Homo sapiens: one gene and its partner. The protein of the gene in region 1 interacts with the protein of each later gene in a pairwise test. Each region holds a gene or a part of one and is shown on either strand. Other genes may lie near its edges.

Region 1 (2,693 bases):
ATAGACATGACAGCCTTTCTCAACCAAGGCTCCATATCCGAAACACAGAAAATTATTACTATTATTTTACCTTTCCAATGGAGCTGAATACAGAAAATTATTTGAGTAACACTTTTCTCAATTCTCCTAAAGATGGTAGATAGAAGAAAATGTGTTACATACAGTAGATGAAGGAGGGCTTGTCTTGAGGAACCCAGACTGACAAAGGCTGCAACACACCGGCAGCATGCTGTAGATGCTGGCTGTTGCTGTTACTGTCTGTACTATCAGTGGGATTTTCTGGCTAGCCTTTCATTCACATTTTCAACTTTCTACCTATGAAGTTTTAGAAATCTAGTTGATTTGGCCCTGGACCTGTGACTCAGGAAAAGTCACCTGATTCTCAATCTTTCATCTGAAAATGGGACTGTTAACATTTGCTTAGCTGACTGCACCTGAGACAGCATGTAAATTCTGGTACTTTACAAGCTCAGAATGAGCGTGCAGCTGGAAGGGAAAGTTGTCATCATGGTGTTTAAGCAGGAGGAAAGGCAGTTAAAGAGAAGGTGATGGTGTTCATCTGTTGTCAGACTCCAAGCAGGTATCAGTGAGTTATCCTGAAGAGGGGAAGAGGAGGTAACTGTACACTCAGCATGTTAGTCCCAGGTTCTACTTTCCAGTCACATCTGCAACCTTTTAGTTTAGCAGCAGTTAAGAACTAGGTGCTTATTTATTTAAAATGTCTTCCTTTTCCTTCCAAACCTTAACTAGCACTTTTCGAAGAACTTCAGAGCTTGGATATTTTCTTGGCTGAACTCTACAAGTAAGTTTTCTAAAAATTTCTTTCCCAAAAACTTACTCAGGAATCACTTAGATATAAGAAATGTTCTTTCCAGGCCAGTAATCCCAGCTATTTGGGAGGCTGAGGCAGGAGAATCGTTTGAACCGGGGAAATGGAGGTTGCAGTGAGCTGAGATTGCACCATTGCACTCCAGCCTGGGCGACAAGAGTGAAACTCCGTCTCAAAAAAAAAAAAAGTTCTTTCCAGGCCAGGCGCAGTGGCTCATGCCTGTAATCCCAGCACTTTGGGAGGCCAAGGCAGGCGGGTTGCTTGAGGCCAGAAGTTTGAGACCAGCCTGACCAACATGGCAAACGAAACCCCATCTCTACCAGAAATACAAAAAGTAGCTGAGTGTGGTGGCACATGCCTGTAATCCCAGCTAATTAGGGTGGCTGAGGCAGGAGAATCGCTTGAAGCTGGGAGGCAGAGGTTGCAGTGAGCCGCGATCACACCCCTGCACTCCAGCCTGAGTGACAGAATGAGACTGTCTTAAAGAATAAAAAAAAGCTCTTCCCAGAGATTTTCACTGAGTTTTTCTTTTATCTTTAGGCATCTTGACAGCAGTAGCAATGAGCGTCCAGACATCAGTTCCATCCAGAGACGTATTAAGGTATCCAAATGGGATTTGGGAGAAAACTTGGGAAATAAGTTTAAATGCTTTTTTCACATTCCTGATTTATTATAGAGACTAGCATTCAACTACTGCTCAATAAATATTTGTTGAATGAGCCAAGAATCAATCTTGTTCTTTGTTTTAGAAAGTAACTCATGACATGGACATGTGCTATGGGATGATGGGAAGCCTGTTTCGCAGTGGCTCCCGGCAGACCCTTTTTGCCAGTCAAGTGATGCGTTATGCTGACCTCTATGCAGCATCTTTCATCAACCTGCTGTATTACCCTTTCAGCTACCTCTTCAGGGCTGCCCATGTCTTGGTGAGTTAAAGCTGTAATGGACAGCCAAGATGTACTCTAAGCCCAGGGTCAGCAACCACCTTTGTGAGATGGCACAGGAGATAGTTTGAACATTTCTTTCTGATGTACAGAGCCCAGGGGCAGGTTATATGGTTGCATAAGAAGGGGTCTTTGAGAAAGTAGAACCAACATTGGAAGTTAAGAGTGTAACTTTACTCTCTGAAGTCTACTCTATTAAAAGCTGTATGTGGGCCAGGCATGGTGGCTCATGCCTGTAACCCCAGAACTTTAGAGGCTGAGGTGGGAGGATTGATTGAGCCCAGGAAGTCGAGGCTGCAGTGGGCTGTGATTGCTCCACTGTACTCCAGCCTGGGTGACAGCGAGAGACCATCTCAAGAAAAAGAAAATGTGGTTTTTACATTCCTTTATTCTGATCTGTTTCAGGACTATCTTGTTTTTGCTGTAAAATAGAAAGTAAACTCCCCTCTCCATCTTTTCCAATTTCCAGCTGCAGTAGACAATATGGGCACCATTTTGAGGGGCAGGGAGAGAGGAAGACAGGCAACTATAAGTAGTTCTATGAAGATAAGTCTATATTGACTTGTCCTGTGGTCCATTATAGATGTAATTGCATGGCCACCTAACAGAGGAGAGGGGTTAGGATTTGGGGAGTAGCTACTTTGCTCTGCCTGCTTTCTGAGCCTCTAGCTTTTTTCTGTCTAGATGCCTCATGAATCAACGGTGGAGCACACACACGTAGATATCAATGAGATGGAGTCTCCTCTTGCCACCCGGAACCGCACATCAGTGGATTTCAAAGACACTGACTACAAGCGGCACCAGCTGACACGGTCAATTAGTGAGATTAAACCTCCCAACCTCTTCCCACTGGCCCCCCAGGAAATTACACACTGCCATGACGAAGATGATGATGAAGAGGAGGAGGAGGAGGAAGAATA
Region 2 (3,826 bases), on another chromosome or scaffold:
TTTCCTAGCTCTAACATACTCGAAACTGTCTATCAGTGTTCACAACCTCCCATACTTGAAACTAAATAGTTACTGAGTTCAAAGGAAACATAAGCTTATCTCAAAATTAAAGTACAAGTAATTGATAAAGGTATGTAAACCTGGAAGGGACTTTAGACAATGCCTACTAAGCCCCTCATTTTACAGATGAGGAATTGGAGGCTCAAAGATTGAGTGACCTGACCAAGGAAACATCGCTAATTTATTTGCAAATTGCCATTTAGGACAGCTCTTGAATGACATATTTAAACTGTTTTGTGTTAAAGAGATACATTTTTTAAAATATAAATTTTAAATTCTGCTCTTGAGAGTATACTATTAACTGATTTTCCTTTTTCTTTCCTCTCCTATTTCACCTTTTTTTTAAAGCCTCCTGTTCAGGTATACGGTATTGAAGGTCGCTATGCCACAGCTCTTTATTCTGCTGCATCAAAACAGAATAAGCTGGAGCAAGTAGAAAAGGAGTTGTTGAGAGTAGCAGTAAGTAGCTTTCCTATTCATTACATATGAAGTTCCTGTTTGTATATTTTTTCCTTTGGTTGTTTGTGCATTCCTAATGAGGTGTATCCTACAAGAAAAAACTGGGAAAAAGCCATTGTCTGTAAACACATTTTTAGTAATAATATTGGGTTTTTATTATAAGACATATAAAAAGAACAAACAGATACATATAAGGATATTAATATTAGGAACCAAGATTAGGGGCTAAGAAAAGGTAGAAATATAAGATTAAAATGGATGGTAATTTAGGAAAATTGCTATTTCAGAAGAGAATTTAAAAGCTACCTTTAAAAATCTATGCTTATAACTGGGCACAGTGCTCACGCCTGTAATCCCAGTACTTTGGGAGGCTGAGGCAGGCAGATCAGGAGGTCATGAGTTCAAGACCAGCCTAGCTGACATAGTGAAACCCCATCTCTACTAAAAAATACAAAAAATTAGCGGGACGTGGTAGTGAACACCTGTAATCCCAGCTACTCCGGAGGCTGAGGCAGAATTGCTTGAACCTGGGAAGCCGAGGTTGCAGTGAGCCGAGATCGCGCCATTGCACTCCAGCCCCGGACGGTACGAGACTCCGTCTCAAAAAAAAAAAAAAAAAAAAAAAACCTATGCTTATGGGCTAGGTGTTTAGAATATATTGTGATTTGGTTTTACTGAGAATTTGTTTTCATGAAACCTTTTCCTCAGGTTTTAATTGCCATATTCTATGCTTGTAGAATCAGAGGAGGCTCAGATATGTCTTACAGGTTGTTTTCATTTGGTAGAGATGCCTTTGCAATTGCCAGAACCCCAGAAGTAACCATGTAGACCTTTTCATTGTTTTGGTAAACCTCTTAATTATTTTGTTCCCAAAATGTGAGGGAAGAATAACAGGGTGGGGCGCGCTGGGCAGCAGAGTTAGTAAAGGGGCATGGGCTTCCCAGTAGTAGTAGAGGACTGACAGGCAAAGACTGTGAGGCTGCTGCAAGATGTTTTTTACTTTTTTTTTTAAACATGAAAAGCAGAATAAATAAACCGTATTACCAGAAGCCTACATTGTAACTGAATAGGAGAATGTCTGCTTTCGTTTTCACCGAATTTTCTAGTTAACAAGTTTCTACACATTCTGTTGCTTCCTTCGATTTTCTAGCGCCACCACTGGCAGTAAGGTCTGCATTAAAAAAGGTGAGGGAGACGCAGTCTGGTATATAGCCTCTTCAGAGGAAGTTTGGTTTTTTCTTCATTTTAAGATTCTTCATTCTTTAATTCACATATCTGCAAGTTTTTATTGTTTAGAAAAAACAATTCATAGGCCAGTTGTATAGAGTAATAATACTTACGTTCTATATTAATCATCGTATGTATAGTCTATAAGTATTACTGTTCTGTACTGTTTATGTTTTATTCATTTTTCACTTGAGCTTCTATTGGAACTTCCGTCTTAACAGGCAGAATAATTTTAGCTCCATATTCCTTCCTTGATCCATTTATCTCTGCAGATAATGCTTAAGGTCTTAGCTGGTGTGATAAACTCTTATGATTCTCTCAGAGCCCAGGAGCCCAGCCCTGTTGTTGGAGACATTTGGGGGAAGGGCATGCAGGAACAGACGGGGTCTCACACAGGCATTTTTGGAGGTGATGGTTATTGTCTGCTACTTGTCAGTTATGCCCATTTTAAACGGAAACAATCATGTTTACAATGGAGAGAATTACTTGGATTGTGGATATTAGAATAGAGTTTGTCTAAAGCCTGGAAGTCAGTCGAGACATGGAGAAAAAGGGAGGCAATTACCTTAAGACACTGAATATTAGCAGGGTTTTGGCACTAAGAGGGAAGGATGATACAAGGATACGCACTGTCCTCTGGATGATGCAGGAGACACAGATAAACATGAAAAACTAGGTAACCCAAATTCCAGAATGCTTTAAATCTGTATATTCCTGCATTTTTTATGGAAAAATGTCATTTCTGTGGGGTCACTCAAGTGGAAATGTTAGCATTGGATGATAGTATCTGACCAGTATCCTGGATCAGAGGCAGGATTCTGGCCAGGAGCCTGGGAGGAGGTGCTAGGAGCGTAATTGAAAAGCATAGAGAGGTGTGTTAACTGAAGGTGCTCAACTGGAAACTGCTGTTCGTTTGTTGGAACTCTGGAGCAACATGCTGGAAGCTGCACTTGGTCACTGAATTCAGACACTGTGATACAACAAAATGAGAAGAACGTTGTTTCCCATGATGGTTGTGCTCCTGTTTTATTGTCCACTCTGTCTCCCAGACTCTTTGGGGCCGCTCTGGCAGCACCAGAGGCCTCACAGAATCTGCTGGGTTCCCTGGACTCTGTAAGAGGCAGGGCCCCTCCAAGGGAGCGGTGCGGAGGCCTCTGTGGTCAGAGCACAGTTGTGAGGTCTGCACTCTAGAAATAGCACTGCTAGAAAACCAGACGACTCCTCTCTTAAATATATTAAAGTATGCAGTCTAATGAAGGTTTGGCTGTTTAGTGTTTTATAATCTTTCTTGAAAAGCAAAAACAAATTTAAGAAAGTTCGTACAGTATTTTTAAATTTTTTTGAGGAACATCATTCTATATAAAATCCTGGTGCAGTGCACAGTGTATTCTGAAAGGCAGTCAGAAAATTGTTTGATTATAATCTTTTTTTCATATGTTCTTCGGCAGTGCTAATTTAATTCATAAAATATTTAATTCATAAGAAAGTGTTTGTATGGCCGGGCACAGTGGCTCATGCCTGTAATCGCAGCACTTTGGGAGGCCGAGGTGGGTGGATCACTCGAGGTCAGGAGTTTAAGACCAGCCTGGTCAACATGGCGAAACCCCGTTTCTACTAAAAATACAAAAATTAGCGGGACATGGTGGTGCAGCTATTCGGGAGGCTGAGGCAGGATAATCGCTTGAACCCGGGATGTGGAGGTTGTGTGAGCCAAGATTGCGCCACTGCACTCCAGCCTGAGCGACGGAGCAAGACGTTGTCTCCAAAAAAGAAAGAAAGAAAGTGTGTGCATGGCACATCCTTCATTTGTGCTCTAAAAAATTTAAGAAATTATTTTTTGATGCTTTCAGCAAATCCTGAAGGAACCCAAAGTGGCTGCTTCTGTTTTGAATCCCTATGTGAAGCGTTCCATTAAAGTGAAAAGCCTAAATGACATCACAGCAAAAGAGAGGTTCTCTCCCCTCACTACCAATCTGATCAGTGAGTATTAGAACTTTTTCATTTGAGGTGTCTTGAAACTATGACTGGAAATGTGGTCCATGGACTGTGGGCGGCATCAGCATCACCTGGGAGCCTGTTG

Evidence for each region.
Region 2: the proteins of NT5C2 (region 1) and ATP5PO interact in binary tests that used the Homo sapiens proteins (3 or more experiments, as listed by UniProt).

What each region holds. Positions count from the first base shown.
Region 1 is NC_000010.11:103,089,673-103,092,365, reverse strand, and holds part of NT5C2 (cytosolic purine 5'-nucleotidase), read left to right. Parts: intron 1-750; coding exon 751-802; intron 803-1,369; coding exon 1,370-1,430; intron 1,431-1,578; coding exon 1,579-1,755; intron 1,756-2,143; exon of another isoform or gene 2,144-2,457; coding exon 2,458-2,693. UniProt on the Homo sapiens protein: Broad specificity cytosolic 5'-nucleotidase that catalyzes the dephosphorylation of 6-hydroxypurine nucleoside 5'-monophosphates.
Region 2 is NC_000021.9:33,908,982-33,912,807, reverse strand, and holds part of ATP5PO (ATP synthase peripheral stalk subunit OSCP, mitochondrial precursor), read left to right. Parts: intron 1-408; coding exon 409-519; intron 520-3,596; coding exon 3,597-3,726; intron 3,727-3,826. UniProt on the Homo sapiens protein: Subunit OSCP, of the mitochondrial membrane ATP synthase complex (F(1)F(0) ATP synthase or Complex V) that produces ATP from ADP in the presence of a proton gradient across the membrane which is generated by electron transport complexes of the respiratory chain.